Linked DNA regions of Homo sapiens: region 2 is linked to region 1. The links come from fine-mapping of genetic effects on gene expression. A gene starts in region 1. The other region holds a variant in brackets. All regions are shown on one strand. Distances are from middle to middle.

Region 1 (16,065 bases):
ACATGGCAAAACTCTGTCTCTACTAAAAATACAAAAATTACCCAGGCATGGTGGCACACACCTGTAATCCCAGCTATAGGGGAGGCTGAGACACAAGAATCGCTTGAACCCAAGAGGTGGAGGCTGCAGTGAGCCAAGATCACACCACTGCCCTCCAGCCTGAGTGACAGAGCAAGACCTTATCTCGAAAAATAAAATAAATTAATTTAAAAAGTTATCAAAATGGTGCCCATGTCTATGATTCATTAACACAAAGAAAAGAAAGACATTAAAATTCAAGACAATAAATGAAATTTTGATACGGGGCACATTCTTGAACAAGGCTACCTTTTACCCTTTACTTTGACTATAATCAGACCTTTTCCCATCACTATAGGAAAAGAGAGAGAGAGAGAGCACGCATTGCCCTAAGGTGCAAGCATTTAGAAATACTGAGTTTGGGCCGGGTGCAGAGGTTCATGTCTGTAACCCCAAACACTTTAGGAGGCTGAGGCAGGAGGATCGCTTGAGGCCAGGACTTCAAGACCAGCCTGGGCAACATAGTGAGACCCCCGTCTCCACAAAAAAAAAAAAAAAAATTAGCCAGGCACGGTGGTACACACCTGTGGTCCCAGCTACTTGGGAGGCCAAGGTGGGAGGATTGCTTGAGCCCAGGAGTTTGAGGCTGCAGTGAGCCATGACTGTCCCACTGCACTCCAGCCAGAGAGAAAGAGAGATTGAATTTGGCCTGGCTTTTATTTAGACCTTAGGACAAGTCCCTCAAGATCTCTCAGCTAAACTATATAGACTTTAATAAATATGAAGCCTTAGGCTGGGCACAGTGGCTCATGCCTGTAATCCCAGCACTTTAGGAGGCTGAGGCAGGTGGATCACAAGGTCAGGAGTTCAAGTCCAGCCTGACCAAGAAACCCCGTCTCTACTAAAAATATACAAGTTAGCGGGGCGCAGTGGCAGGCACCTGTAATCCCAGCTACTCAGGAGGCTGAGGCAGGAGAATCACTTGAACCCGGGCGACAGAGGTTGCAGTGAGCCGAGATCATGCCACTGCAGTCCAACATGGGCAACAGAGTGAGGCTCCATCACAAATAAATAAATAAATAAATAAGACTTGCCCAACACTTGGGCACATAAGCTTCTCATCAAAGATGCCCATGATATAAAGGCACATGAATTTCTTTATGGAAAGGTCACCTTTCTCTTTGCTTGACATATTCAGAAAAGCATTAGGAAAATAATCTTACTCAACCAGCTACATGCTATGTTGGCCACAGTGTTTCATAAGATATATTTAATTTTTAAAAATTTTTTATGATTATTGTATATTCTACAACAAGCAAAGGGGCAGATAGTTCTTATATCTCCTTACAGAGTTTCAGAGGACCTAGGGTCTGAGGAGAGCAAAGGAATTAGGAATATCATAAATTGCCCAGATTTTCCATTTGTAAGGGAGACCCAAGCCTTGCCCGGCTTCCTGAGTTCTCCAGCATCCTGGCCATGCAGCTGGCATTGGGTGTTATCATTGGCCAGAAAAATACGTATAAGTTCACCAGCCAATAGCTTTCCTTATGAGCCTAAGAGAAAACAGCGTAAGCACACTTTTCTGCCTTCCTTAAAGCTCTTTGGGAGCCCAAGGCGGGTGGATCATCATGTCAGGAGATCGAGACCATCCTGGCCAACATGGTGAAACCCTGTCTCTACTAAAAATACAAAAATTAGCCAGGCATGGTGGCACACCCCTGTAGCCCCAGCTACTCGGGAGGCTGAGGCACGAGAATCGCTTGAACCCAGGAGGCGGAGATTGCAGTGAGCCGAGATCATGCCACTGCACTCCAGCCTGGCAACAGAGCAAGACTCCGTCTCAAAAAAAAAAAAAAATGCAAGCTGTCCTCTTACATGGCTGTCTGTAGTGCCAATCTTCATGCATTCAGAAAAACCGGGAGTTAAACTCAACTTAACTAAAACACTCCCAAATCTTAATTCTTTGGTTTCCAGGGCAGTGAGACCAAGATTGTGATGGAATTCAGAAAAAGGGACCCCTGAGAAACAGCTGCTGACCAAACAAGCAAGGGCACTGATATGAGAACAATAATAATGCCATTACTTGTATTCTGAAAGCATCTTTCTCCAGAAAGCTCACAATTCTGTATAGATATACAGTATTTACTGTTGTTTTTCCTTGGTGATTAAAACATTAAATTTGTTCTCATTAATAATGTATCTTTTTGGCCAGGTGCAATGCCTATAATCCTAGCACTTTGGAAGACTGAGGTGGGCGGATCACCTGAGGTCAGGAGTTCAAGACCAGCCTGTCCAACATGGGGAAACCCCATCTCTACTAAAAACACAAAAATTAGCCGGGCATGGAGGCACATGCCTGTAATCTCAGCTACTCTGGAGGCCAAGGCAAGAGAATCGCTTGAACCTGGGAGGCAGAGGTTGCAGTGAACCAAGATCATGCCACTGCACTCCAGCCTGGGCAACAGAGCGAGACTCTGTCTCAAAAAATAAAAATAATGTACCACTGGGCCAGGTGCAGTGGCTCACGCCTGTAATCCCAGCACTTTGGGAGGCCGAGGCGAGCGGATCACAAGGTCAGGAGATCCAGACCATCCTGGCTAACATGGTGAAACCCCGTCTCTACTAAAAATACAAAAAATTATCGGGCGTGGTGGCAGGCGCCTGTAGTCCCAGCTACTCGGGAGGCTGAGGCAGGAGAATGACGTAAACCCAGGAGGCGGAGCTGGCAGTGAACCGAGATCACGCCACTGTACTCTAGCCTGGGCGACAGAGTGAGACTCTGTCTCAAAAAATAGTAATAATAATAATAACGTATGGCTGTCCACAAATATTTTGGCTGTTTCTATTTGCTGTGTCTATAATTTCCATTAACATCTTCACTGAGAATATCTGAATATTGCTGTGGCTTGTCACTTTCTTCAGTTGTATAGGATCCTATTTTCTGTATCTTCCTCTTCCACTTTGGGCAGTAGCTTTTTCCTTCTCTTTCGAGGTAACTTCATGTTTTACTTGTCTGAATTCATGTTAGTATGTTCATCTTGCAATTTAAATCATCTAAGCTTGCCTGCAAATTCTATCCACAAACTTCATCCTCCTAATATAATAATCTATGTAATCACCTTTTATCTGTGATCATTTTAATGAATTGCATTCCATTTATATGGCTATCTTATTATTTCTAAAACACTTCTTGACAGTGGGTGCACATCAACCAGGTGTTCCTGATTTTTCTCTTCATTCTATATAATGTAATTGAAGACCTCTTTTCTCCCACCTTCCTGAACTTTACAGTGCCAAACGATCAACACCAAAAGTTTGTGTGTTGCTTTGGCATTTCTTTTAATAACCCTTCTTTACACAGCAGAAATATTTTTCTGCCAACTCATTTCCTCTAAAAGTGTTTTTGTCTAATGAATATTAGTTGTAATCAAAGATCTTAGAAGTGAAACGGGTCCCTCAATTTTTTGGTCTGTCCCTCTGTCTTCAGGCAGACACATATTAATTTTGTGTAAAAGGTGGTGTGATTAGCCAGGCGCGGTTGGATCACTCCTGTAATCCCAGCAATTTGGGAGGCTGAGACAGGTGGATCACTTGAGGTCAGGAGTTCGAGACTAGCCTGGCAACCATAGCAAAACCCCATCTCTACTAAAATACAAAAATTAGCCAGGCGCGATGGCGTGCACCTGTAGTCCCAGCTACTCGGGAGGCTGAGGTGGGAGAATCGTTTGAACCTGGAAGGCAGAGGTTGCAGTGAGCTGCGATCACACCATTGCACTTCAGCCTGGGTGATAGAGTGAGACTCCATCTCACAAAAAAAAAAAAAAAAAAAAAAAAAAAAAAAGGTGGTGTGACTGATGGCCAGGTGTGGTGGCCCCCTCCTGTAATCCTAGCACTTTGGGAGGCCGAGGCGGGCAGATCACTTGAGGTCAAGAGTTCAAGATCAGCCTGGCCAACATGGTGAAACCCCGTCTCTACTAAAAATACAAAAATTAGCCAAGCGCGGTGGCACATGCCTATAATCCCAGCTACTCAGGAGGCTGAGGCAGGAGAAGCACTTGAACCCAGGAGGCAGAGGTTGCAGTGCACCAAGATCGCACCATTGGACTTCAGCCTGAGGGACAACAGCGAAACGTCATCTAACAACAACAGCAAAAAAGGTGGTGCAACTGAAATCCAAAGTGACTCGTTTAAGGTCACACCTCTATTAAGTAAGGAAGCAGAAGCTGGGCTCTAGCTCTCCAGTGGAGGAGCGGGGGAGATTGGAGAAGGTGGTTGGACCCAGAGAAGGGAAGTTTTTAAATCAATAAACTACATAATCGGCACTTGTGTAGAGACGTTATCTATGCTTGGACTCAAATATGTAACAATTAAGGAATATTAATAAACATCATTGAAAAGCTATTTGGTAATGAGAATTATGGAAGAATGCGATTGTGCTCAAAGACCACTGTTCCAGTCAGCTAATGCTACATAACAAACCACTCCAAAACTTAGGGCCTAAAACAACAACAATACTTATTTTGCTCACAAATCTGCGATTTGGGCAGGGCTCAGCAGAGAAGCTCATCTCTGCTCCCTTCATCTTAGCTGGGACGGTTTGAAGCCTCAGCACTAGAATCACCTGAAGGCTCATTCAACCCAGACATCTGGAGAATGGAACAACTGGGGTTCTGGGGTTCCTCCAGTAAGGCTCCCCATCTCTGCCTGGCATCTTCATATCGACTCTCTTGCACATCGACTGCAGGCTAGCCAGACTTCTTCCACGTCAGCCCACAGCTCTCAAGAGATGGGGCTCCAGAAAAAAGAGCCAAGTGGAAGCCACATTGCCTTTTATGACTTAGTCCCAGAAGCCAAGCAGCATCACTTCTGCCAAATTCTCTTGGTCAAAGCAGTTAAAAAACTCTTTCCTGATGTAAAAGGCAAGAACAGGGCCAGGCGCTGTGGCTCACACCTGTAATCCCAGCACTTTGGGAGGCTGAGGTGAGCAGATCACTTGAGCCCGAGTTCAAGACCAGCCTGAGCAACATGATGAAACCCCACCTCTACCAAAAATACAAAAAATTAGCCAGGCATGGTACACACCTGTAGTCCCAGCTACTCATGGGGGCTGAAGTGGGAGGATCACCTGAGCCCAGGAAGGTCAAGGGTGCAATGAGCCGTGACCGCCCCACTGCACTCCAGGCTGCGCGACAGAGTGAGGCCCTGTCTCTAAATAAATAAATAGAAGGTGAGAACATAGACCCCACCTCTTGATGGAGGAGTGTCAATGTCACATGGTAAGAAGGGTATGTGGGGTGAGATCCATATTAGAGCAGCTATGTTTGGGAAACACACTCTGCCACAACCAAAAACCACTGGATTACCAAACCGTTGAAACAGACCTTGAAATAACCACCTATTTGCCACTCACAAAATTCATTTCATAAGACACAGCTCAAATGTCCCTTCCTTTTGGGAATCCCGTGCTGATATGCCCCAGCTTACACAGCGCTTTGTAAAGATGCCTACTCTCTCACTCGGCTTATTCTATTGTCATTTTCATAACAGGATTGTAATCAGGCAGGTACGATCATACTATATTAGCCAATCATTTTACTAGTCAATCAATATGACATCATAGGGCAGCTTTGCAAAGAGCCCTCAGATTGATGGAGAAGAGATACTTTTAGGGAAGCCAGAAGCAACGCTTTGCACAGAAAACAAAGGACAGCAAAGAGAAAAGAATCAGCAACTCAGAGAAGAAAAACTGGATCACACAAAGATGGAAAAAATATATACATATACAGACATGGGTTTTTGTGCTTTTCCCCTCCAGAAGGTGAGTTGAAAGCATTGCCCCAAAGCAGTGATTCTCTTTTCTTTTTTCTTTTTTTTTCTTTTTTTTGAGATGGAGTCTGGCTCTGTCTCCCAGGCTGGAGTGCAGTGACGCCATCTTGGCTCACTGCAGGCTCCGCCTCCCGGGTTCACGCCATTCTCCCGCCTCAGCCTCCCGAGTAGCTGGGACTACAGGCGCCCGCCACCACGCCCGGCTAATTTTTTTGTATTTTTAGTAGAGACGGGGTTTCACCATGTTAGCCAGGATGGTCTCGATCTCCTGACCTCGTGATCCGCCCACCTCGGCCTCCCAAAGTGCTGGGATTACAGGCGTGAGCCACCGCGCCCGGCCCCAAAGCAGTGATTCTCAAACCTCAGCTGTGTCAGGGTCACCGGGAGGGCCTGGGTCTGGTGAAATACCCCCAGTTTCTGATTCGGTGGGCCAGGGTGGGGCCTGAGAACCTGCATTTTCACGGATTCCCAGGCGATGCTTCTGCTGGTCGTCCGATCCCAGGCTTCAAGAACCAGTACCCACTTTGTGAGGCCGAGGTGGGAGGATTGCTTGGATCCTTGAGTTCGAGACCAGCCTGGCCATCATAGGGAGAACCTCCCCACCCCCAACCCCGCCACAGTTCTTTTTTTTTTTTTTTTTAATTAAAAAATAACTGGGCGTGGTGGCGCTGGCCTGTGGTCCCAGCTACTCCGGAGGCTGAGGTGGGAGGATCGCTGGAGCCCGGGAGGCGGAGGTTGCAGTGAGCTGTGGTGGTGCCACTGCACTCCAGCCTGGGCACCAGAACGAGACCCTGTCTCAAGAAAGATGAAAAGGAATATACTGGAGATTCTGAAGGCAATGACCACACTGACCACAGGTGAAACCCCGCAAAGACGGAGGAACCCAAAGAGCCACGAGAGCTGTGGGTGGAGACGGCCCAGGAGGCTGCAGCGGCCTGCTTTCAACAGCATACTTCTGGGTGGGACCCCCCGGGGCGGACACCGCCGCTCCCCTTGGCCGCGGTGGCGGGCGCCCCCTCCCGACGCTCTTGGGTAGTGCAACCCGGACCGCACAGCGGAGCGGCCGGCCCCCAGGTGGGCGGGGCCAACCCGGACCAGCCTCCCGCCGCCTCAAGTCCTTGGGTTGCTGGGACTGCAGGCCGCCGCGAAGACAGTCCCCGCCCGCCGGGTGGGCGGGCCCAAGGAGACCGCCCCGCTCTTCCCCCCGGGCCTTGATTGGTCAGCGTCGCCCTTGCGCGATGACGTCGTGCCTGGGCGGAAACTTTGCGAGAGTAGCGCGGGAGCTGAGAAGTTGCAGGGTTGAGTTGGTCCCGGCAAGTCCTTGAGCAGTTTGTTCCTCTGTCTTCCCGCTTCCTGGTGCCCCGACTGCGTCCCCACGAACGCCCCGTCCTTACCGCCGGCTGCTGTGGAGTGCCTCGCTGTCTCCCAGGTCCCCGAGTGAGCGTCGAATGGGACCTCTGTGGCTAGGGCAGGCCTGTGTGGGTGGCACTGAGAGGGAGGAGGGGAGGGGGATGTTCGCAGTTTCCTTGCGACCCCAGGGACTTTCTTTGTCCCCGCCATCCACCTCCTTAGGCCTTTGGGATCGCCGACTGGTCTAATGTCGCCGGCCCTTGTGGCTCTGGGAAATTAGCATTGATTAATCTTCCTAACAATTTTTGTTTTTATAGAGACAGGATCTCCCTATGTTGCCCAGGCTGGTCTCGAACTCCTGGGCTCAAGGTATCTTCCTGCCTCGGCTTCCCAAAGTGCTGGGATTACAGGCGTGAGCCCGGCCAGCTCCTAATAATGTTAAGTGCTTGCTAGGAGTCAAGCGCTGTGCTGAGCGCAGGGGCTTCCCACGTCATTGCGTCCCCAGTGCTTAGTGCCAGGCACTGAGCAGAGGCGCGATTCGTATTTGAACTAAAACGAACCCCGTCCCTGAGGAACAAGACCTCTACTGGGAAGTCAAAGAAATGAATAGTGATTGTATGGTGTGATGGGTGCTCAGCTCTTGGTGGACAGAAGTAAGGGGGAGGCTTGTTTGAGAAACGGATACCTGACCTAAGCCTTGGAGGAAGAGGCAGACACTGGAAAACTAGAGTCCCTGCGTTCTCTCACCACTTGCTAAAGGGCCTCTACAACCCCAGGAAACCTCAATAAACCTTTCCTTTCTCCAGATAGATGTCTGTTCTTGCAGATAATTAGAAAACGCATTGCAGAGTATTGGTTCTTTCCCTCTCATTAGGTTCCTGGTTTCAGAGAAGATGACCGAAGAAGTGGATTTCCTGGGACAGGACTCTGATGGGGGTAGTGAGGAAGTGGTCCTAACTCCTGCAGAGCTCATTGAAAGATTGGAGCAGGTAAGCATCCCAGATCGAATCCCTTTGCTCCAGTCAGCCTTTTTATTTAGTTCAACTGTGAATATCAGGGATCACAAGATGAGGAAACGGAATTTGGGGCTTACTTTAGAACAGGGACTGGATCTTACCATCTACATGGAAACGGGAAGCAAGAAGGACATCCTCTGTTAGAGACCTCATCATATCAAACACAGCATCCCCAAGTGGGGTCAGTAAGGGACAGCTTTGGGCACATTCAGTGAACAGTTCACAGAGCAAGGATCCACGTGATATTTTCAGGGACTGTAGAGGTCCCTGAACTTCTTTACCTTAGTCCCTTGAACATCTGCTGTTTCCCTGGAGAATGCCTGTTTAGCAAGAAAATGCTGAAATGCCTGTAAGGGAAAACTGGTCATATTTTTCCTTTTTCTCACATGTTTTTTCTTGAGTCGTCTGCTCTCCATATGTCCACTGCTTATCTAAAATCCTTTCTGAAATATTTCTCCTTTAAGTTGTAATAGCTATGACTTACTGCATATTTCCCATGTGCCAGTAACTGTGTTCTTTACACTTATATCTCATGATGCTCTGGTAACAGGAGTTCAGACTATCTGGATTTAAATCTGTCTGTGACACTCCTCTGTTATGTGATCTTGAGCAAGTTAGGGAGTTTGTCTCAAGCCGTTGCTTGCCTATAAAATTGAGACAATAGGGCCGGGCACGGTGGCTCAAGCCTGTAATGCCAGCACTTTGGGAGGCTGAGGTGGGCGGATCACCTGAGGTCCAGGAGTTCGAGACCAGCCTTACCAACATGGTAAAATCCCGTCTCTACTAAAAAACAAAAATTAGCCGGATGTGGTGGCGCATGCCTGTAATCCCAGCTACTCGGGAGGCTAAGGCCGGAGGATCACCTGAACCTGGGAGGCAGAGGTTGTGGTGAGCCAAGATCCTACCCACCATTGCACTCCAGCCTGGGCAACAAGAGTGAAACTCCGTCTCAAAAAAATAATAAAATAAAATTGAGATGATAATAGTGTCTATGTCCTGGAGTTTTTGATTAAATGTGGTAATTGTGTAAAGCACTCAGCATGCTATCTGACACATGATAAGCACTCACTAGATGTGAGCTGTTCATAGTAAGTATCCTTATCCTCTTGCTCTAACTGCCCCTTTCCAGAGCTCTCTCATGTTTGCTACTTTAGTATTCTTCATTCTTCCCTGCCATACATGATATCACGAATGACAAAACGGAACTAAAATGATTTTTAAATTATACCTTACATGATAATCCTTACTATTTAGCAGTGATTCTTAATCTGTTTTTATATCACAGACCTTTTTGAGAAACTGGTAGAAACTGTGGTCTTTCATCCCACAATAACGCACACATGCACCCATGCAGAATTTTGCATATGACTTCCAGGGGATCAGAGATCCCCTGAAATCCACCCACAGACCTAGTTTGTGGAACAGCATTAAGAATTCCTGGTTCGTTAGGAAAGGGTTCATTAAACAAAAATCAAAAGGCACATAGCATAAAGGAAAAAAGGGATACATTCCTGGAGTGCAGTGGTGTGATCTTGGTTCACTTGCAGCCTCCACCTCCCAGGTTCAAGCGATTCTCCTGCATCAGCCTCCTGAGTAGCTGGGCCTACAGGTGTGCACCACCACGCCTGGCTACTTTTTGTATTTTTAGTAGAGATGGGGTTTCACCATATTGGGTTTCGCTGTGTTGGCCAGGCTGGTCTTGAACTCCTGACCTTGTGATCTGCCTGCCTTAGCCTCCCAAAGTGCTGGGATTACAGGCATGAGCCTCTGTGCCCAGCCTGTTTGTACTTCTGGATTAGAGTGAAAAGACAGGCCACCAGGCTGGGAGAAGATATTTGCAAAATACTAATATGTAGCTGACACAAGATGATTATCCACAGTACATAAACAGCTCTTTCATACTGCCCAGTACAGACTGATACCTCAGAGAAGAAGAAAACAGGATGACCAATAAGCATATGAAAAAGATGTTCAACCTTTTTAGTAATCAGGAAAATGAAAATCATGAGATATCATCTCATATCTATCAGATTGGAAGAACTGAAAAACGTGAGCAATATAAAGTATGGCAAGAATGTAGAGCAGCTGAGCGCAGTGGCTCATGCCTGTAGTTCTAGCAACTCAGGAAGCCCAAGTGGGAGGTTCATTTGAACCCAGGAGTTTGAGACCATCCTGAGGATCATAGCGAGATCTTATCCCAAAAAGAGAAAATTAAGAATATAGGGCAGGCCGGGTGCGGTGGCTCACACCTGTAATCCCAGCACTTTGGGAGACCGAGAGGGGCGGATCACCTGAAGTCAGGAGTTCAAGACCATCCTGGCCAACATGGCGAAACCCCGTCTCTACCAAAAATACAAAAATTAGCCAGGCTTGTTGGCATGCCTGTAATCCCAGCTACTCAGGAGGTTGAGGCAGGAGAATCTCTTGAACCCAGGAGGTGGAGATTGCAGAGAGCCGAGATCATGCCACTGCACTCCAGCCTGGGCAACAGAGCAAGACTCCATCTCAAAAAAAAAAAAAAAAAAATGAAGAGCAATTTGCACACTTATATACTGCCGTGGGATATAAATAGGTATAATCGCTTTGGAAAATAATTTGTTATTGTCTAGTAAAGATGAAGGTGCACATACCTGCGGCCCAGTAGTTCCACCCCCAGGTACATACCTAGTGAAAACTTCCGCATGTACTCTAGGAGACATCCACAGTATGTTCACACATTGCTTGCAATAGTTAAAAATTAAAATAACCTAGACAACCGTAAACAAATAGCATTGAGAAAATATACCATACACAGTGGGAATAAAACAGCAGTGAAAATGAGTAAAATAACTCCTGAAACAGCATGAATAACAGGAACTTAATGTAGAACAATAACAACCATAAAATATGAGCTGCCAAAGAAACACTTTATGTAAAGTTCAAACTTGCAAAATTATTGTTCAAGGCAGAGCCGCCACCCTTGGGTGATGTGGCACACTGCTATGCCACAGATGCCTCTGTGTGGACCCCTGCACCTTCCAGGACAGCTGGAGCCCCAGGCTGGTTACTTTTTCAAGTGAGCATCATCGGGGTCCTTGAAAGGCAGCTAGAGGATGGGGCGGCGGGGGTTCTGACAGCACAGCTGCAGCTTGCTGGTGGGTAAGCTGCAGTAACATCTCATGCCTGATGCTCTAGTGCAGTGCCCTGAGTGCAGCCAAGGAAGTGACCCGCCACCTGCACGGCTGCCACAGCCAGATCCTGTCTCTTATGCTGTGTGGCACAGCCAAAGGGACAGCCTGACAGGGCTGCTGATGAGAACAGCTCCAGGAGCATATATAGGATACCCTTTAATGCCTGTAAAAAGTGATTTAAAAGTTGTTACCTGTAGTGCAGATTTGCTCATTTTAGTGATTGTTTTAGTTTGCTAGGGCCACAGAGCGAAGTCCCAAAGACTGGGTGGCTTAAATAGAAATTTATTTTCTTAATTCTAGAGGCTGAGGTCAAAGTGCCAGCATAGTTGTCTTCTTCCGAGTCCTCTGTCTTGGGTTTGTAGGTGACCATATTCTCCCTGTGTCCTTGCATGGTCTTCCCTCTCGTGTGTGTCTGTGTTAAAATTACCCCTTATCAGGGCACCAGTCTTACTGGATTAGGGGCCATCCTAATGACCTCATTTTAACTTAATCACTTCTTTAAAGACCTCCATCTCCAAATACAGTCACGGTCTGAGGTCCTGGAAGTTAGGTAGATTTTTGAGGGGCGGACACACTTCAGCCCGTAGCAATAATGAACAGATTGGCATTTAGAATTTTGATCAGGGGCCAGGCACAGTGGTTCAAGCCTGTAATCCCAACACTTCTGGAGGCTAATGCAGGGGGATGTCATGAGGCCAGGATTTCGAAGACCACTGTAGGCAACATGGTAAAACCCCATCTTTATTAAAAAAAATTTAAAAATTAGCCAGGCTTTGTGGTATGTACCTTTAGTCCCAGCTACTCTGGAGGCTGAGGCAGGAGGATCACTTAAGCCTTGGAGGTCAAGAATGCAGTGAGCCATTATCATGCCACTGTGTGACCAGAAACCAGATGTAGCCATTTCAAGCATAAAACCTGAGTTAAAAAAAAAAAAAAGATTGGATTTAGATACAAGTTTCTCAGTAAAAATTTTGGAAAGATTTATATGAAAGTTTTATACTAATATAAACTTCCACCTAATGTTTTATACTTTATTGTCATAATTTCATAATGTAAATGAAGTGGTCCCCAATACTACCCCAGTGTACCAGACAAGCACTATCATTTTCTTTGAATATCCTGTCATGAACAGGTTGAGAGGTGTTCTACAGAGATATGAACAAATGTAGTGAGACCATAAAGAAAATTCAACATGAAATTCAAGCTAATGATTACCTCTGAGGAGGGAGGGACACACAGGGTCTTTTTTTTTTTTGAGATGGAGTCTTGCTCTGTTGCCCTGGCTGGAGGGCAGTGGTGCAATCTTGGCTCACTGCAACCTCTGCCTCCCAGGTTCAAGCAGTTCTGCCTCAGCCTCCCAAGTAGCTGGGACTACAGGCGTGCCACGCCCGGCTAATTTTTTGTATTTTTAGTGGAGACGGAGTTTCACCATGTTAGCCAGGATGGTTTGATCTCCTGACCTCGTGATCCGCCTGCCTCGGCCTCCCAAAGTGCTGGGATTACAGGCGTGAGCCACTGCACCCGGCTTGTTCTTGTAGTTTTAAAAATTATTCAGTATTTGGCTGGGCTCGGTGGCTCACGCCTCTAACCCCAGCACTTTGAGAGGCCAAGGCAGGTGGATCACTTGAGGTCAGGAGTTCAAGACCAGCCTGACGAATACGGTGAAACCCTGTCTCTAATAAAAATACAAAAATTAGCTGGGCATAGTGGCACATGCCTGTAATTCCAGCTACTCGGAAGGCTGAGGCAGGAGAATCACTTGAACCCGAGAGGCAGAGGCTGCAGTGAGCTGGGATCATGCCTCTGCTTTCCAGCCTGGGCAACAGAGTGAGACTGTGCCTCAAAAATAAATAAAAATTATTCAATATTTAATAAAAATCAATCAAAAAGAAATGCTGCTCCTAATAAGCCCTCCAGAAAATATGATGTTTTCCCATGCATTATGCAGGTTTTTTTTGTTTGTTTGTTTCAGTCTGCAGGACTGTTACAGATGCTCAGGCTCTGCACAAATGCCTATGACTGTAGCCATACCCAGCATTTGGTAATGTGTCTTGACGGTGATCATGGGGAGAAGCAGACACTCAAGGACGTCAGAAAAAAATAAGTTGAGCCTGGTCAGCATATAATTCTGAGCTATGCTAAAACTACATTTCCTGTAATTGAAAGATAAGTGTAGCTTTCCTCAGTCACTTAGGGATATTTCAGTTCTCTAAGCCTTGGAAGTCTCTAAAATGAACCAAACAGCTGGGCCTGAGTCATAAATTAGAGCTTTAACCTCTGGCTCCAAAACTCCATAATAGATGAGCGCCTGTTTCTATTATGATCCTGTATACTTTGGGGCCATTAGTAAATTACTCAATCTGTATTTTTTCAATCAGATGAGGATAACTATATCCATTTTCTCTGAGATATGATGATGATGAATGAAAAATATTTGTGAAGTGCTCTGAGCTTCAGGAATGAAGAGCTGTGTGGATTGGTGGGTTATTGCTTTCTCTCTAAATAGACATGGGGTGGCGCTGCCTGGGGGAACAGTGTGCCCGGGCTGCCTGGCAAAGGCACTATTTGAACACCAGGTGGTGTCACTCTCAGCACCAAGCGTCACACTAACTGAAGTAAGCAAGGGTTTGTATGAGTGTCAGTTGAATAGAAGGTTGTGAACACAGCCTCCCAACTAAAACAAGACACGAGAAAGCAATCGCTAAACGTAGTTTGTCTTCAAAACACCTTCAATGTTTCCAGTTGGTGGGCAGACAGTTTTCTTGCCTGCGCCATCCCTGGTTTTCGTTGGACTTGGGCTGACTCACTGGGTTGTTTAGCTCTGTGGTGGGTGATGCTTGCTTTTTCTGGCATTTGTCTTTTAGGCCTGGATGAATGAAAAGTTTGCCCCTGAGCTGCTGGAGAGCAAGCCTGAGATTGTAGAATGTGTCATGGAACAGCTGGAGCACATGGTAAGAGTCGCTTGTCTTGGGTTGACAAAGGAGGAGAAAGGTAAAAGCATTTGGTCAGCACACTGAGAGCTTGTGGTCTGGTAGCAAATCTGTTTTGTTTGGCTCCACTCACAGTCCAGTTCTTTAAAACAACATTGAATTAGTTATCTATGTTTATCAATCTTGAGAGTGCCTGTAAATATCTGGATATTGGCTTCCCATGAAAAGTCTAAAATCCTGCATTTCTGCATGAGAACAGTTGACCAGAGCAGTCCCATGAGAGCTGTCCATCCATGTACTCCCTGCTCCCCACAGCCCCTGACTACCCACCCTTCTCTTGTAGCCTCCCCACCTGGCCCCTGCAAACATTTGAGTTTGTGGTCCCTGGCCTAGATGATCTGAGCATAAATCATTGTCAACTTCAGAGAAGCTGTAAAATGTGGATATTTCAGTTTCTCAGCTGGTGTTTTAATACTGCTTTTTAGACCCAATGGAAGTTTCGTCTGTGTGCTGTACTATCTCCCTTACAATCAGATTGGAGTTCTTTTGGAAGCCTCTGGCTGAACAGATTCTATTCAAATGGTCATTTTCTAAAAGTAAATGACTATTGTTTGTACTTTATACAATGATAAAATGAAAACTCACATGATATTTTTGTTTTCCTTGGACTGAAACATAGTCTGGGTCCTCAACGTTGCCGGTGATGATGGTTGAACATCATGTTTTTTATAAACCTTAATTTCTCATTTAATAGGAAGAAAATCTCAGGAGAGCCAAAAGGGAGGACCTGAAGGTCAGCATCCACCAAATGGAGATGGAGAGGATCCGCTACGTCCTCAGCAGCTACTTGCGGTGTCGCCTCATGAAGGTTTGACGTGGAGATACCTGGAGGGATTGAGACAGCACAGTCTGTAATGCAGACTGAATGTCCTGGGGAAAACTTGGGCTGGGGCCCAGGAGGGTCCAGGACCTGAAGATGCTGCTAAGAGCCCAATATCCATGTAGCTAAACTGTAAGGAGAGCGAGAGATTGCTCCACAGAAGCACAGAGGAACGTGTGTGGCCCACTGCGGGGACACCGCACACATTTTTAGTCTGTTCACCTGCCGAGTGAGTGGTTCCCCCTTGCGTTACAGCATGGCAGTGCTAAAGGGAGAGTTGTTGGCATTGGTCAATAGTGAATGCTGACTAGAGGAGAACTTGTTTCCAAAATTATTTTGTCTGTCAGATGGCCAACGTCAGTGTCAAATGAACCAGGATGACTTACATTCACCTACAGCTTTGTGGCTATCTAACTTACAAAAATGAAGTTGCAGGCCAGGCGTGGTGGCTCACACCTGTAATCCCAGCACTTTGGGAGGCTAGGCGGGTGGATCACCTGAGGTCAGGAGTTTGAGACCAGCCTGACCAACAAGGTGAAACCCCATTTCTACTAAAAATAAAAAAATTAGCCAGGCGTGGCGGCAGGCGCCTGTAGTCCCAGCTACTCAGGAGGCTGAGACAGGAGAATTGCTTGAACCCAGGAGGTGGAGGTTTCAGTGAGCCAAGATTGTACCACTGCACTCCAGCCTGGGCAACAGAGCGAGACTCCGCCTCAAAAAAAAAAAAAAAAGAAATTGCAAAACATTCCTAGTTTATAACTCTGAGAAATTCTTACTTCCTTGACATTTCATTTGGTTCTATGTGTCTCTTTAGTTATTACAAATAAGATAAATTATCTCTTCTACATGAGAATGCTTCAGCTATCTGAAGACTG
Region 2 (16,065 bases), 770 kb before region 1:
TGAACACTGTTCCACCCACTGCAGGCTTTGAGGGGAAGAATTCCTTGAGCTACTCTCACAAAAAATGTTCTACAGGAACCTGGGACTACTAAGGTCACTTATGCATGAAATGGTTGAGGCAGGAGTGAGTGAAAGTTATGTTCTTAAAAATAAAGAAATGCAATGCATCAAAGGCGGCCACAGGGAGGTGACAAGATAAAAAAGGTGCTAGATTTAGGTGACCTCACTTTTGATCTTATCTCTACTTCCACTGCCCTCTGCCCCTTCCTTAGATCATTTGCAAAATGCACACAGCAATGCTTACATGATAGAATTTTCTGAAAATTATGTAAGATAATATATGCAGATTTCCCAATGCAGCCTGTGACACAGGGCAGGTGCACAGTAGGGGTTTGCCAGACGTAAGTCCAAAAAGACAATTTACTGCAAATTAGTAGAACTCAGTACATCACTCCTATTTTTAAATGTATTTTCTGCAAGGTTTTCTGGTGTTGATCAGGAGACATTCATCATTGTCTCAGCATGACCTGCACCAAATCCAGGTCACATGAAGTTATAAATGTATCTTGTATTTTAATGTCACAACCCTTGGCTGATTCTAAGGCAAAAAGAAAAAATATATATATATATTCTTAATACATGAACCTAAACAAAGCCAAACAGTCACAAGCCAGAATGTAGTGAAGGAAACAGACTTCTTCGTTCTGCAAGAATAATATTTTAGGCATGGGGAATGCCCAGAGGTTACTAAAGAGAAGCAGAATGGTCACAGGGGGTCACCTAATAGGAAGACAGCAAGCGTGATTTATGAGAGCCATATGAGAGTGAAGACTCACGGTGCTATGTAGGACAAAGGAAGGCAAAGAGGCGAGATCCTCCCAGATCCCTCCCTGTATCCCAGCAAGAGATGAAGACAAATGGACCCAGACATAGAAGGAAAGGAATTTTATTAAAAGCGAATGATACAAATTTTCAGGAAAGAGTTGAGATTCATGAGAAAAATAAACTTATGTTTTGTGGGACTCTAGCATGTTAACCAAAGAAATCCATCTATCAGGGGAAAAATGGGGTCAGGAAAGATATACTGGAGAATCAGACACCTGAAAAAAAGAAACAGAGCAGAAAGGAAAGAGAATACTGAAGAACCCAGCTGCCACACCCAGGTGGGCCATCAGACCATGTCTGGAGATTCCTGGCCACCCCAGTGGGGCCCCCCAAAAACAAACACCAGCATTGGAAATTAACCTTGCAGAACTGAAGTTAGAGAGCGATTGTGATATAAAATAATCACTCTCTTTTGCAGTCTGTTGCCACCAGAATTCTTTTATTCAAACTACCCTAAACAAAAATAGATTTGGGCTCATTTTCAAGGGCCCATTTAGTGTGTCAAAGGAAAGACACTGCTAAAGGATGTGGTGTATAATCTTCCATGACAAAGGGTCATGCAATATGTATGATCAATCCTTTCACCCCTGAGGCACAGCCATAATGTCTTCCAGATAAGAACTTCCTGAGGAACACACTCCTTCTCTCTTATGGCTGAAATATGGATTGAATCTGGGAAGGACATTGACCTCTGCTAGCTGCAAATCAACTTTATTAAGCCACTCTTGCATTGCTATAAATAAATACCTGAGACTGGGTAATTTATAAGAAAACAGATTTAACTGGCTCACGGTTCTACAGGCTTTACAGGAAGCATGGTGCCAGCATCTGCTTCTGGTGAGGCCTCGGGAAGCTTCCAATCATGGCAGAAGGGGAAGTAGGTGTCTCACATGGCAGGAGTGGGAGCAAGAGATGTGGGGAGTAGGTGCCACACACTTAACAATCAGATATCATAAGAACTCACTCACTCTCATGAGGACTGCACCAAGGGGATGGTGCAGTCCTCATGATAAACCATGAATTAGATAAACCATTCTAAACCACCCACAAGAAATCCATCCCCATGATCCGATCGCCTCCCACCAGGTCCCACTTCCGACACTGGGAATTACATTTCAACCTGAGATCTGGGTGGGGCAAATAACCAAACTATAACATCAACCCCTGAACTAACGGGCCTGATGTGAAATAAGGTCAAGCTTAGGGCAGCGATGACCAAGAGAGACAGCCAGTAAGAGGGCGGTTACAGAAGAAGAGGATGACTTCGATAGGTGTATAATGAAAACCAGATGCAATTCTGTTGCTCTGTAAGACTTTCTATACAAATGACAGGTTTTAATTAAAATAATTTTTAAAATTATAATTGTTTCAAAGAAAAAGAATAGGGCAGTATTATGAAAATATGAACATCAACCCCCCCTGTGCAAAATGCTGAGGATGCAAAGATGTATAAGGGAAGACCCCTGTCCTCCTAAAGTCTAACGCTGTGATCTCTGGGTCTTCCCATCTCTGCCTTTTAAATTTAAGGAAGAACAGGGTGGACCCTCCAGGAGTTACTGAGACTGAGATCCCAAGACCACACCTGAGTTCTACCAGCTGTTTAAGTAACCCCAGTCCTCCTACTGGAAGCACATATCAGATCACTGCTGACTTCCTCATTCCCCCAGGAAGCCATCCAGACAACCTTCTGCTGCCCTACTTTGTGACACCAGGGTGCCCTCTCACTTGGCACCTATCTGGAACCCAGCCCCCTCTCCTGGCTTTGGGCATCAGCACAATTGCAGGGTGCCTCTAGCCTGTGTCCCTGTGTCCCTCTGCCACTGGGCTTGCCCTGACTTCTCCTCCTTCCCCCTACTCCTCTTGTCATCAGAGAAGGAGAAAGTCTTGGCTTAAAGGAAGCTCTGAGAACAAGAGTTTGCCCAGTCCCTTCTACCAGGCTGCCCACTACCCCCTTGGCTGGAAGCAAACTGCATCTTCATGCAACTTCACTCCTGCTCCACGTGAAGAACCTGGAATAACCTGGAGAAAGGGTTTTTCCTCACATCCTCCCTGCTTCTCAGGTCCTCCCACTCTCTGCAGTCATGGACTTAAAGATCAGCATCCCTGTGACCGCGGGACGGGACAGCAACGTTCCAATTCTCAGCCTGGAAGTCATTTGGAAACCTCCTTTGGTCTTACACTAATTATCCCATTCATCTATTTTTACCTACTCAGGTATCCTCCAAATCTATCAATGTCTCATTTTTCACTTCTGCCATCAGCCACACTGATTCAGTGGACTCTTGCAAGGCTGACACTCGACAGCTCCCCTCAGCTCTTCTTACCTGAGTCCACTCTGCATCTCCCATCACTACCTGCTTCTGTCTCCAGACACCAGCCGTGCTCATGCTGGCTGTCTTCTTCTTTTTTTTTAATTTTACTTTAAGTTCTGGGATACATATGCAGAACGTGCAGGTTTGTTACATAGGTATAAATGTGCCATAGTGGTTTGCTGCACCTATCAACCCGTCATCTAGGTTTTAAGCCCTGTATGCATTAGGTATTTGTCCTAATGCTCTCCCTCCCCTTGCCCCCCACCCCCCAACAGGCCCCGGTGTGTGGTGTGTGACTTTCCCCTCCCTGTGTCCATGTGTTCTCATTGTTCAACTCCCAATTACGAGTGAGAACATGCAGTGTTTGTTTTTCTGTTCCTGTGTTAGTTTGCTGAGAATGATGGTTTCCAGCTTCATCCATTTCCCTGCAAAGAACATGAACTCATTCTTTTTTATGACTTCCTTCTTACTCCTTCCAAAGACCATGTTCTCTCAGACCTTAGGGCCTTTGCACATCCTACTTACTCTACCTGGAATTATCACACCACACTCTTCCCCACCATCACTGCAAAACATATATCTCTGTGCTTAGTTAATCACTAATCAACTTCCAGACACAGCTCAAGCATCACGTATTCAGGAAAGCCCTTCTCTGATTCCAAAGACCTTGTGGAGTTCTTTATTCTAAGCTTTCCACTATGTTTCTTTATTTAAATATTTGTACGATTTTTAAAAATTAACATCCATTCCCCCCCACCACTATCCTTGTAAGTTCTGTAAACAGAAACTGCATCTGTTTCATTCACTGTTAAATTCCCAGCAATCAGCACACTGCCTGACTCTTGGTAGGCAAGCAATTAATATTTTCTGAATGAAAAAATAAATGATTGAAGATCACAGGATAATACAGACCTCAGGTTCTAGAGCCAAACAGTATTGAGTTTGAATCTTGGCTGTATCACCTACAAGGTGTGTAACTTTGGATAAGATTCTTGACTTAAGCTCCTTCCACATGTTTTTCACCAGAGGTGACAAAGATTCTTACTCATATTTATAAAGTTCACATGAAATTTCTATCAAGTATTTAGCATAGGGCCTGACACATTAAATAGGTTTAGGCTGGGCACAGTGGCTCACGCTTGTAATCCCAGTGTTTTGGGAGACCGAGGTGGGCAGAGATAGAGACCATCCTGGCCAACATGGTGAAACTCCATCTCTACTAAAAATACAAAAATTAGCTGGGCATGGTGGCACACGCCTGTAGTCTCAGCTACTCGGGAGGCTGAGGAAGGAGAATTGATTGAACCCGGGAGGCAGAGGCTGCAGTGCGCCGAGATCACGCCACTGCACTCCAGCCTGGCAACAGAGCAAGACTCCATCTCAAAAAAAAAAAAGAAAAAAGGTTTAACAAATGGCATGCAAACAAACAAGAGAGTATATGCAATGATATGTTAACAATAAAACAGTGGAGTTAGAGTACAGGAGGGGGCTACCAGGCTTTCCAATGATCAAAGACCCATGGCACTATCTCCACCAGGGAAAACAATTATTTCCACAGCTGTCTTTCCAATGAATCCTTCTTTCCTCTCCTCTGTATCAGATTCTAGGCATAAGTTATAACTATGATATATATCTCAGTATAAATGAGTTTCAGAAGCAGAGTCCCAAGCTAGAGAATTGGTCTCAGGCCGAGAAAATCATGTGTAGCTGAAGCAATATGCCATATGTTTCCACCAATGACGAGTTCTACTATTTTTTTTCATTTAAATTATTATTTGTGTATTTGTACCTGTATAACAAAAAATTTTTATTCCACCTGGGGGTATAGTTTGGTGAGGTGATTTGTATTGACAAGAAAGAACATATTAAATCTGGGCTGTCCTAGAAGACTCAGGAATTTGGGTTACCATAATTTGGCTTGGAGGACAGATGGCATAAAACGACCAGGTGGGCTGACTGTTGCCTGTAATCCTAGCACTTTGAGAGGCCAAGACGGGAAGAATCGTTTGAGGCCAGAGGTTCGAGACCAGCCTGGGCAACATAGTGAGACCTTGTATCAACTAAAAAATTTTTAAAAATTTAAAAATTAGCTGGTTGCCGTGATGCATGCCTGTGGTCTGCGTAATTTGGAGACTCAGGTGGGAGGATCACTTGAGATCATGAGCTATGATTATGCTATTGCATTCCATCCAGCCTGAGCAACAGAGAGTGACCCTATCTTGAAAGAAGGAAAAGAAAGAAAAGAAGGAAAGAGAGAGAAAAGAAAAGAAGAAAGAAACAGAAATAAGCTGTCCTCATTGTTTCCACATCATATGTTCACAAATTTCAAACTTTTCTCTGAAAAGAAACAAAGCCAAATAGCAACAATGCAAATGGAAACTCGGGGGTTTGAAATGATGCTTCTCTCTTAGGTGAAACTCTAACAGCCACAAACTGAAAGTCTGATAAGGAAGAGAAGAAAGGCACCTTTAGAGTTTCAATGGGCAGCAAACATCTTCTGTAAAGGGTCACAGTAAATATCTTAGGCCTTCTGGGATATACCATCCCTGTTGCAACTACTCAATTCTCCCCTTGTGGCATGAAAGCAGCTGTGGATAACATGTAAAGGGATGTGTGTGGCTGTGTTCCAATAAGATTTTCTATTTATGAATATTAATATTTGAATTTCCTGTAATTTTTTTTGAGACAGGGTCCCACTCTGTCACCCAGGCTGGAGTGCAATGGCCCGATCTCGGCTCACTGCAACCTCCGCCTCCCGGGTTCAAGCAATTCTCCCACCTCAGCCTCCCGGGAAGCTGGGACTACAGGCATGCACCACCATGCCCGGCTAATTTTTGTATTTTTTGTAGAGACAGGGTTTCTCCATGTTGTCCACTCTGGTCTCAAACACCTGGACTCAAGCAATCTGCCCGCCTTGGCCTCCCAAAATGCTGGGATTAAGGGTGCGAACCACTGCACCCAGCCTGAATTTCATGTAATTTTTATGAGCCATGATATACCCTTCTTCTTTTGATTTTTTTCAAACATTAAAAATTTTTAAAATAATTCCTAGCTTACAGACCACACAAAAACAGGCAGTGGCTGAATTTGGCCAGTGGTTATTTTCTGACTTCTGACTTGAGCCAGTGTGGCACATAAATACTAAATCGCATCTATTGATTTTCTAATTGCCCTTCAGGTCTTCCAGGTGGGAACAGCAGGCCTGTCCTAACTGGACTATAGAAGTTGCAAATTACCCTGAAGAGACCCAAATGAAGGGAACCCATACACATTGATCCTCTCCTTGGGACCTTAAACATTATTGCTTCACTCTCCTCCCACCAGGGGTACTTTGAGTGGGGGAAGATAAAAAGCATCTGGATGCTTAAAGTTATTCTCATGCCTCTGGCATACAGAGCAGACTCTCAAACATCAAGTTCTGTGTATTTGTCTTAAAAAACACAAAGAAAAGTCCAAAGTCTGTGTTCCATTCTGCCACCAGGCTTGTGGAGAAAGGTGCTCCAGGAGACTGTAGGTGCTGGCAGCCCCGGGCAGTGTAGACGAATACAGCTTCCATGGAGAAACACAGCAACACTTATCAAAATTATAAATGCACACATGTTTTCACCCAGCAATTTCATGTCTAGGAAATGTTCTTTTATATATATATATATATATATATATATATATACACACTTGTATACCTGAAAAAGAGATACACACATTTATTCATCATGGCATTCTTTGTAATAGCAAGTGATAGGAAAAACCCAAATATCCGTAAGTAGGGGACTACATAAATTATGGGATATCTTTACAATGAAATACTCAGCATCTGTTCGGGTTTATGTTTGTAAGTGTGTGTGTGTGTGTGTGTGTGTGTGTGTGTGTGTGTGTGTGTACTGGATTCTTATTATTTGTGGTAGTTCTGTTCTATAAAGTTGCTATGAACACTGAATTAGCAAATACTGAACCATTGCTCTTAAATACAAGATTAGCTTCCTGTGAGCCTCTGTCTATAACATTTTCAACTGATCAATATGTAACCTCATTTTACGTACGTTTCTGTTAAAAGACACATTATTTGATATACATTGGTGATCTGTTAGCACTGAGCTCACGGCCAGCATTAGCCGTGAAGCAATGTCACTCAGCCTGAAGCACTGTCACTCAGCACTGTCACTCAGCCTGAAGGAAGCTTATTTAATGCATGTCTTTTCTCCCTGAGGCACCTTACAGCCCTCTCGTGTTTTGGAACGCAGGGCAGCACTTCAGTGTTGCGTTTGGAGGCCATTTTAAACAGTGAAATCGACAACAAAAAGCACAGAAAGGTAACAAGCATGGCTCCAAACAGACCGTGAGAAGGACACTTGTTCATAGTATGGAAGCCGAAGCAGGAAGGCAGAGTCTTACTTGGTTTGACCTCAGCTGGAAACATGCACTTTGGGTGACTCAAACTTTTCACTACCCTGCCCATGGCTGTGAATGACTACAAATGTGTGCCAGTACTGATGGGAGGTTACAAGTAAAGTTCAATGAGTAGGCGAATCTGCTCATATGGAATCCACAAATAATGAGCATCCACTGTACACACATACACACACGCATGCACACAAACACCCTTTACCTCATGTCAAATGACCTCCAAGATGTGTAAAAATACAAAAAATTAGCCGGGCATGATGGCACGTGCCTGTAGTCCCAACTACTTG[G/A]GAGGCTGAGGCAGGAGAATCACTGGAACCTGGAGGGCGGAGGTTGCAGTAAGCCAAGATTGTGCCACTGCACTCCAGGCTGGGCAACAGAGCAAGACCCCATCTCAAAAAAAAAAAAAGAAAAAAGAAAAGGTAAAATGGTACATATACTGTACCATACTTTATGTAAAATATAGGAAAATAATATCTTTATTTATGTATCCATCAAATATCCTTGGAAGGGCAATGAATTACCTCTTGCGATGGTTAATATTGGGTGTCAACTTGATTGGATTGAAGGATGCAAAGTATTGTTCCTGGGTGTGTCTGTGAGGTGTTGCCAAAGGAGGTTAACATTTGAGTCAGTGGACTGGGAGAGGCAGACCCACCCTCAGTCTGGGTGGGCACCATCTAATCAAGGCTGCCAGTGTGGCCAGAATAAAAGCAGACAAAAGAAAATGAGAAGACTAGACTGGCTGAGTCTCCCAGCCTAGTCTTTCTCCCATGCTGGATCCTTCCTGCCCTAGAACATCAGACTCCAAGTTCTTCAGCTTTGGGACTCCTGGACCTTCGACCACAGACTGAAGGCTGCACTGTTGGCTTCTCTACTTTTGAGGTCTCGGGACTTGGACTGGCTTCTTTTTTCCTCAGCTTGCAGGCGGCCTATTGTTGGATCTCACCTTGTGATCGTGTGAGTCAATATTCCTTAATAAGCTCCTGTTTATATATACATCTATCCTATTAGTTCTGTCCCTCTAGAGAACCCTAATACTCCTCTGAACAACTGAAGGACAGAAATGGCAGGAAGACTTCATTGTATTCCCTTTCTCTTCTTGTCATGAAGCCAGTCCCTCCACAGTCACCACTCCACATCAGTCGTAAGAGAAAGTTGGTAGACTCAGTGAAATGACAATCTGTAAGGTTTTTTCATTAGTCACCATGACTCTTTTCAAATGTATGTTATCATTATCCCTTTCAAAAAATAAACAGAGCAACAATTCCTGTGTTGACGTATTAAAGAACTATGGCACGGTCATCACCAGATTTTAGTTATTAAGGACCCTTAACCATTCCTTCCCTGAATATAGATTTTCTGTAAATGACAATGTCTAATTTAAAATTCTGTCTGTGGTCTTTTCCATTTGTGTGAACAGCACACAAAAAAATTACTTATTATGAAAAAAATACTAAATAGAAAGAAGAAGAAAAGCTGAATACCTGGTGGTCTCTAGAAGGAAGCAAAGAAAAATGGATCTTGGGAATAAATAGGATTTTGACCCTTCAGAGTTGGATGGTGACAGTGCTCCCTAGCATAAGCGTGCAGCAAAGCAGAGACACAGACTTGCTAATGCCACAGAGAGAACTGTCTCTACTGGTTAAAGACAGAACAACGGAAAGGACACTAGACATTCAAAGAAAATGAAACAGAGAATCAGTAATGCTTTCTAATCACCTACTGGAGAAAAGAAACATGCATAACGCTATTGCAATCATAATTGTATTACATCAGCCCTTTGGAATGGTATCTGAGAAAAGCCAGTCTAGGCCAGGTGCAGTGGATCACGCCTGTAATCCTAGCCCTTTGGAGGCTGAGGTGGGCAGATCATGAGGTCAGGAGTTCGAGACCAGCCTGACCAACATCATCAAACCCCGTCTCTACTAAAATTACAAAAATTGGCAGGGCATGGAGGTGCGGGCCTGTAATCCCAGATACTCAGGAGGCTGAGGCAGGAGAATCACTTGAACCTGGGAGGTGGAGGTTGCAGTGAGCCGAGGCTGGGCCACTGCACGCCAGCCTAGGCAACAGAGAGAGACTCCATCTCAAAAAAAAAAAAAAAAAAAAAGGGAAAAGCCAGTCTAGAATCTATGGTTGCTAAATTCCTATATTGAAGACCTAATCCCCAGTGCGATCATATGTAAAGGTCATAAGATAGTATTACCTTTGAGAGATGACTAGCTCATGGGAGTGGAGCCCTCATGAATGGGATTAGTACCCTCACAAAAAGAGACACAAAGAGGTGATCTCTCTTGCTATCCCATATGCCACCTGAACTGCCATAAGATGTTCATCTGCAAAGCAGGATGAGAACCCTCGCCAGAAACTGAATCGGCTGACAACTTGATCTCAGACTCCCCAGAACTGTGAGAATTACCTTTCTGACGTTTAAGCCACCTAGGCTATGGGATTTTGTTATAGCAGCACAGGCCAACTAAAACAAGGGTCGACTGTCTTGGTCGCGCCCCACCCACATGACAATGTTGAACTTCAGCTGAAGTCCTGGAAAAACATGAGCTCCTGCTTCTGGAAAACAGGAATAGTTTCTTTTAAATCTCCCATCCTTTTCTGTTCCAGGAAAGAGCTTGCTGCAAAGACCAACCTTTCCCCAAAAGACATAGATAAGATGTGTGGATGATCATCTTATTTACCTATTGACAAGGCCAGACACAAACTCTCCCAATTCCCATTCTTCAGCTCATAAATAATTAACTGAACTATCTGTCCCCACTAACAAATCTGGACAAAATGCCCACTAACGCAGCCTGACCAAACTTTGGTCAGTCTTCTCTGCTTTCCCACGGTCCCTGAACTTTGTCCCACTCTTATGCTTGTGCGAGCACTGAGAGCTTATGCAAGAATGCAGACAAGACACCACTACTGCCAACAGCCTTTCCCTATAATCGACTGACTACATATGCAGAGAAACGTTCCTGTTTAGTTGCTCACTCACAGCACCTACTCCCTTGACTCTCCAACACCCAGCTCCTTCTAGCCGTGCTTTACTTCTCCAAGTGGTTGGGACATTCCCCCTATTGCAATAGACTTCCATATATGATCAGTCCTTACCTAAGTGCTGATTTTTTTCTTTTATTTGACCCTTTGGAAACATCTGTAAGTTGGCATACACTTGCTTCTGCAAATCTTTCACCTGCCCTCAGGAACCGAGCCCCTCCTACTGGCCAACCCAGTCTCCATCCCTCCCCAAACATACCCCAGGCTCTAGCCCTGCTTCGCAGCACCCTCACCAGAACCAGATTGGGGGTAGGAGAGCTAAGCAGCATCTTGGGTCACCTAACTAAAAACAGTACAAAATCTGCAATGAAAGAAGTCAGAAAAAACAAAATTCCTGTTAAGCCAAGTTTCCACTCACTAACTCTGAATGGTTCTTGCTTCTGGCAAAGCTGACTTTTTTCATGGTCGAGGCAACATTCTGACCGCAAAGATCTCTCTCTCTCTCTCTCTGTCACAGTCTCTCTCTCTCTCTCTCTCTCTCTCTCTGTCATGCTCTCTCTCTCTCTGTCGCGGTCTCTCTCTCTTTCTCTCTCTCTCTCTCTCGTGCTTTTGCACCATGCACCTGCAAGTTGCACAGAGCTACAGCAGATTTTATCACCAACCTGGGGCTTGGCCAACGTAGAATTGACAGCTATGGTCAGCTACAATCCTGAACCCGATACTGCATGTGGTTTCCTAAAAATGAAGGATTTGTGTTACCTACATTATAAACCTTTAATTGTCCTCCCAAGAAATTGCTAGTTCGGAAATTAACAAAAGGAAGCTGAAGAAGAGAAAAGAAGGAAGAAAGAAAGGTGAGGGTGGGCTGGGGCAGTGGGGCAGGGGGGGATAATTTGCTATAACAAAAGGCAATAAAGGGAAATTTTAAACATATGTCATATAGTACTTCATAATTATATCCACAAACATAATCTCTATCTTGGCCAAATGTGTGTAACTATAGCTATCCACAAGAGATCCAATTCCAAACAAGTTTTAATGTTATAACTGGGTTATGGACTTGATTCCTTATTTTGAATATAAAACAACATATGTATTGCTAATTTTTCAAAGGGGCTTTCTAAATAAATATTGAATGAAAGTCAGTTTGAAGGGCCCCTGCAAGTCTCTGCCTAACCAGGTCTCCCACAGGCCTTCCTCATTGTTCCCTCTAAGGCTTTGCACAGCAGGCAGCTCCACCAAGAACAGGCGCCCCGTCATGGTACAAATCTTCCAGAGCCTTCTAAAGCTTTTGCCTTGGGGAAGCCATTGTTAAGCACTCCAGCTTCCATCAAAAAATCACTTCTCTGATCATCAACTTCATTAGAGGCAGGGCCACACAAATTAGCCCTTGATTGTTTTTAAATTGCTTTCTGTATGACTTTTCTCTCCAACTACCTGATGAACTCCATATTTCATTTTTTTCTGTGTCCTTTACAGCATGCGGCTCTGTACTCTGTACATAGTAGAAGCTCAGTAGAAATTGGCTGATTGATTAATTATGAAAGGGCCCATAGATCAGGAGATACTCCACAAGAAAGAAGAAAAAATTCCACGACAGAATACTTGACACACACTTTACAATTTATCATGCACCTTCACAAACATGACTTTATCTTGAGTCCCTTAACAACTCTGAGAGACAGTCAGGACAGCAATTATATTGCTTGATTATAACCATGGTAATTGAGTTTTAGAAAGTCTAAAGCAAAGTTGTGAAACTCATGCGTAGCAGAACTGGGGATAGAATCTCCACTTCTAACTCTCAGTGCTGGGTACTATTTAAGCTGGAAGCCAAACACACAGCACTTGTTGGTAAACGCATCTGTCTTTGAGAACTGACCACGAAGTCAACAGCAGACCACTTGAGAAGACAAGGGGACATTTGACAAAGTAAATGTCAACGTTACGCACAATGTCCCACCATCCCAACCTCGACTCCTGCCTCTGCCATAGTACTAAGTGAATAATGTCCCCCTCCAAATTCATATCAACCTAGGACATGCAATGTTATTTGGAAATGGGGTCTTGCACATGTACGTAGTTAAGAAGATGTCATGTTGGATTATATTGGGCCATAAATCCAGTTATTGGTGTCCTTATAAGAAGGAGAGAGAACACACAGAGATACACACAGAGAAGAAGGCCAGGTGTGGTGGTTCATGCCTGTAATACCAACACTTTGAGAAGCTGAGGTGGGAGGATCACTCAAAGCCAGGAGTTCAAGACCAACCAGGGAAACAGCAAGATCCCATCTCTACAAATTTTTTTTTTTAAATTAGCCAGGTATGGTGGTGCATGCCTGCAATCCCACCTACTTGGGAGGCTAAGTCTGGAGGATCCCTTGAGCCTGGGAGTTCGAGGCTGCAATGAGCTATAATCATGCCACTGCATTCCAGCCTGGGAAACAGAGCAAGACCCCATCTCTAAAAATAAAAAAAACAAAAATGAAAAGATAGAAGAGGCAGAGGTTTTTGTGGTACAGTTTCAAATCCAGCAACCACCAGCATCTATGAGATAGGCAAGGAAGAGGTTCTCAGTCAGACTTTCCAGAGGAAGGCCCTGCCCATGCCTCAATTTCACACTTATAGCCACCAGAACTGCCAGAGAATAAATGCTCTTTGTTGAAGCCACCCAGTTTGTGGCAATTTGTTACAGCAGCCTTAGGTAGTCAACAGTGCTAGAACTTCATACTCAAGAAATGCCTCTGAGTTTGTTTCCCTGAAGACATTACCAATGCTGACTGCACACTCAAAAGGGCCTTTTCCCACTCTTTTTTATTTAGCTCACCCAAATCTATCCTTTAAGAAGTGGTTCAGTGTCACTTTCCCCAGGAAAACTTATCTAGCCCCATCGTATCAGGAGAGGCCAGGGACCCTTCACCATGCCCAGGCATATGTCTATGGTAGCACTTATCATGCTGCATTGAGATACAGGGTCTACACATCTGACTTCCCCACTAGATCCTGATCTGTGTTGGGGAAGGTGTCCATGTCCCCCAGCGCTTTGCAGATGCTCGTTATCGTCTTACGATGGGATGTTGTGGAGCTAGTTTACAGTATCAGAGTAGATCTCCTTTTGTTTTCTACTTTTCCAGCCATGTCTCTGTCAAGTACTAGCTGGGTGATCACAGTCAATTACTTAATCTCTCTGTTTGCTTCTCTGCTAAGTGGGGACAGTGACAACTCCTGCCTTCTCCAGGGCTTGTGAAGATGAAAGATCACTCATATATATAAAGCATTTAGAACACGTGTGGAAAGTGCATGATAAAAGCCAGCCACTATTTTTACCCTGCCCAGAACAACAATGCTCCCTGGCTCCAGACCCCATAACAGTTACAAGGCCAAAAAATAAGACACCACTTCAAGATATGTGGGAAAAGACTAGGAATAGCATTTAGGGAAGCAGGATTTTAATCTCAGGTCTGACCACTTTGGTCAAGTCATGGTACTTCTTTATTTTCACCTTTGTAATAAGAAGGGTTTAGATTAGATTGATTCTTCCCCATCTAGACTCTAGGATGTTTAGGGACTTGTAAAAGTGACACTCAGCTTCTCAAGCTATGCAGAATATTTCAGATCTGAAGGAAAGCATGTATATTAAGAGTAGTAACACTGATGACACTAACCAAATGCCAAGCTTCTCTATGTTTAGAGGGAATTATCTTAACCCCACATAAAAATACTGTTTACTTAAAACTGACTTGCGATTTTGGTCAGCAGTTACTTACATTTTGCAAAAATCAAAGTATCACACACACAAAAAAAAAACCCAGGTAAAACTAAATCACCTTTTTTACTTAAAAATGCTGTTTCCCATACAGATCATTTTTTCCCAAAGCATCTGACCCACGGGTCTGAAGATAATAAAAGGGTGAAAAACGGAGACTCTCAATGGACTGCGTGAACACTGAAGTCCTTTCTGTCTCTAACGCTGGAGGGATTACTGAAAATTTCTCTAAGGCAATTGACCATAACAATTTATTTCTCACTTAATTTTACTCTGTGGCCCCAAGGGAAAAATGTCTTCCAGGGGGAAAAAAAATGTAAGATCCGAGTAAGGATTCTAAAGATAAAAGCATGTGAAGAGAAAATTTAAACAGCTGACAATGTCAAAACAGAAGATAGAAATGAATTTGGGTGTTTAAAACAACAACAGCAAAAGCCAAATGGCCTGAAGTAGAAATGGCAACAATAGACCTTAGAAGTATAATAGGCCCTTCACTGCGTTTGTAAGTAAATTTCGAGTTCCTATGAATGGGGTGGGAGCAGGGTTCATACATGGTCAGGGTGTGGGAAATCAGGAACACATTTTCTCTGTTTACAAAGCCATACGCTGGGGGTATTCAGGGCAGATGTGAATGCTCTTCTCAATCAGTTAACACTGGGATGCAAACCTCTCACAGCCCCTGGGAGCACAGAATCTGAGTAGGAAGTGAGGTGAGTAGAATAAAGTGTTATTATATCCTTCTGAGAATACAGCGTGCTAGTGGAGAGAGTATCAGTAATAATAATACATGCAGAAAGTGCTTTGAAAACAAAATGCTAAATAAATATGACTTATGTCAGTTGGGCCTTATGAAAAATCTATACCTTCGATATTATTATTATTATTATTTTTAGAGACAGTGTCTCACTCTGTTGCCCAGACTGGAGTGCAGTGGCACAATCATAGCTCACTGCAGCCTCTGATTCCTAAACTCAAGCAATCCTCCAGCCTCAGCCTCCTGAGGAGCGGGGTCTATAGGTATGTACCACCATGCCTGGCTAATTAAAAAAAAAAAATTGTAGACACAGGGTCTCACTATCTTGTCCAAGCTGGTTTTGAACTCCTGGCCTTAAGTGTTCCTCTTGCCAGCATCCCAAAGTTCCGGGTTTACAGGTGTGAGCCACTGCACCCACTCACCCAGAACAGCAGTCATCCCTGGCCCCGGACCCAGCAATGGCTTCAATGCCCAAAAATAAGACACCATTTCTTATTCTCCAGACAACGTCTTTATATATTCAGTCTCTCAATTCTTAGGTATAAGCCTGTACAAAAGAAAGTTGATTCATATAATTACCAATATACACTCTTAAAGCCCCTGAGAAGTATTGGGGGTGACTTCCACGCTGTGTCCAATAGATCAAAATGCATAGCGGAAAGTATATATTCACCTACAAATGTACACACAGTGTAACAAAAGCATCAACTATCACTCTCAAAAAGTAAGACGATTTTATTGCTTTTTCTGTTTACTGGTTTGCTTTTATATTATGCTCAATAAATTATAGAAAAATGATTTGATAAATAAATCATTGGTAGATCAAGGTTTTTCAAAACCCAGGAAACAGCAGAGAAAAAAGGTTTCCACGGGGACTTTGATAAAGAATGCAAACAGATGCTTCTTGCTCTGAAATCCAAACATCTTTCCCACTGTAAACTGTCC

Alleles and levels. Alleles are on the strand shown, and positions count from the first base shown. SD is a standard deviation of normalised expression in the study named.
As copies of G replace A in region 2, the expression in hippocampus of the gene that starts at base 7,146 in region 1 goes down (moderate effect, 0.65 SD a copy in GTEx).

Evidence for each region. PIP is the estimated chance that this variant, and not a neighbour inherited with it, causes the effect.
Region 2: its variant is fine-mapped to the expression of GINS4 in hippocampus (GTEx, PIP above 0.99).

Annotation. Positions count from the first base shown.
Region 1 is chr8:41,522,116-41,538,180 of GRCh38, forward strand. GINS4 (GINS complex subunit 4) reads left to right here and starts at 7,146. Exons shown (of 8, transcript NM_032336.3): 1 at 7,146-7,281; 2 at 8,069-8,183; 3 at 14,245-14,331; 4 at 15,065-15,178. The coding sequence starts at 8,088. It overlaps GPAT4-AS1 (GPAT4 and GINS4 antisense RNA 1), which reads right to left. Exons shown (of 3, transcript NR_125824.1): 2 at 14,956-15,195; 3 at 12,190-12,295. RefSeq lists a silencer at 6,692-7,121.
Region 2 is chr8:40,749,592-40,765,656 of GRCh38, forward strand. The region is part of intron 3 of ZMAT4 (zinc finger matrin-type 4); the gene reads right to left. Among named protein-coding and RNA genes, the nearest start is that of ZMAT4, 140 kb to the right of the region's middle. The variant G/A (reference allele first, on the strand shown) is at 7,889.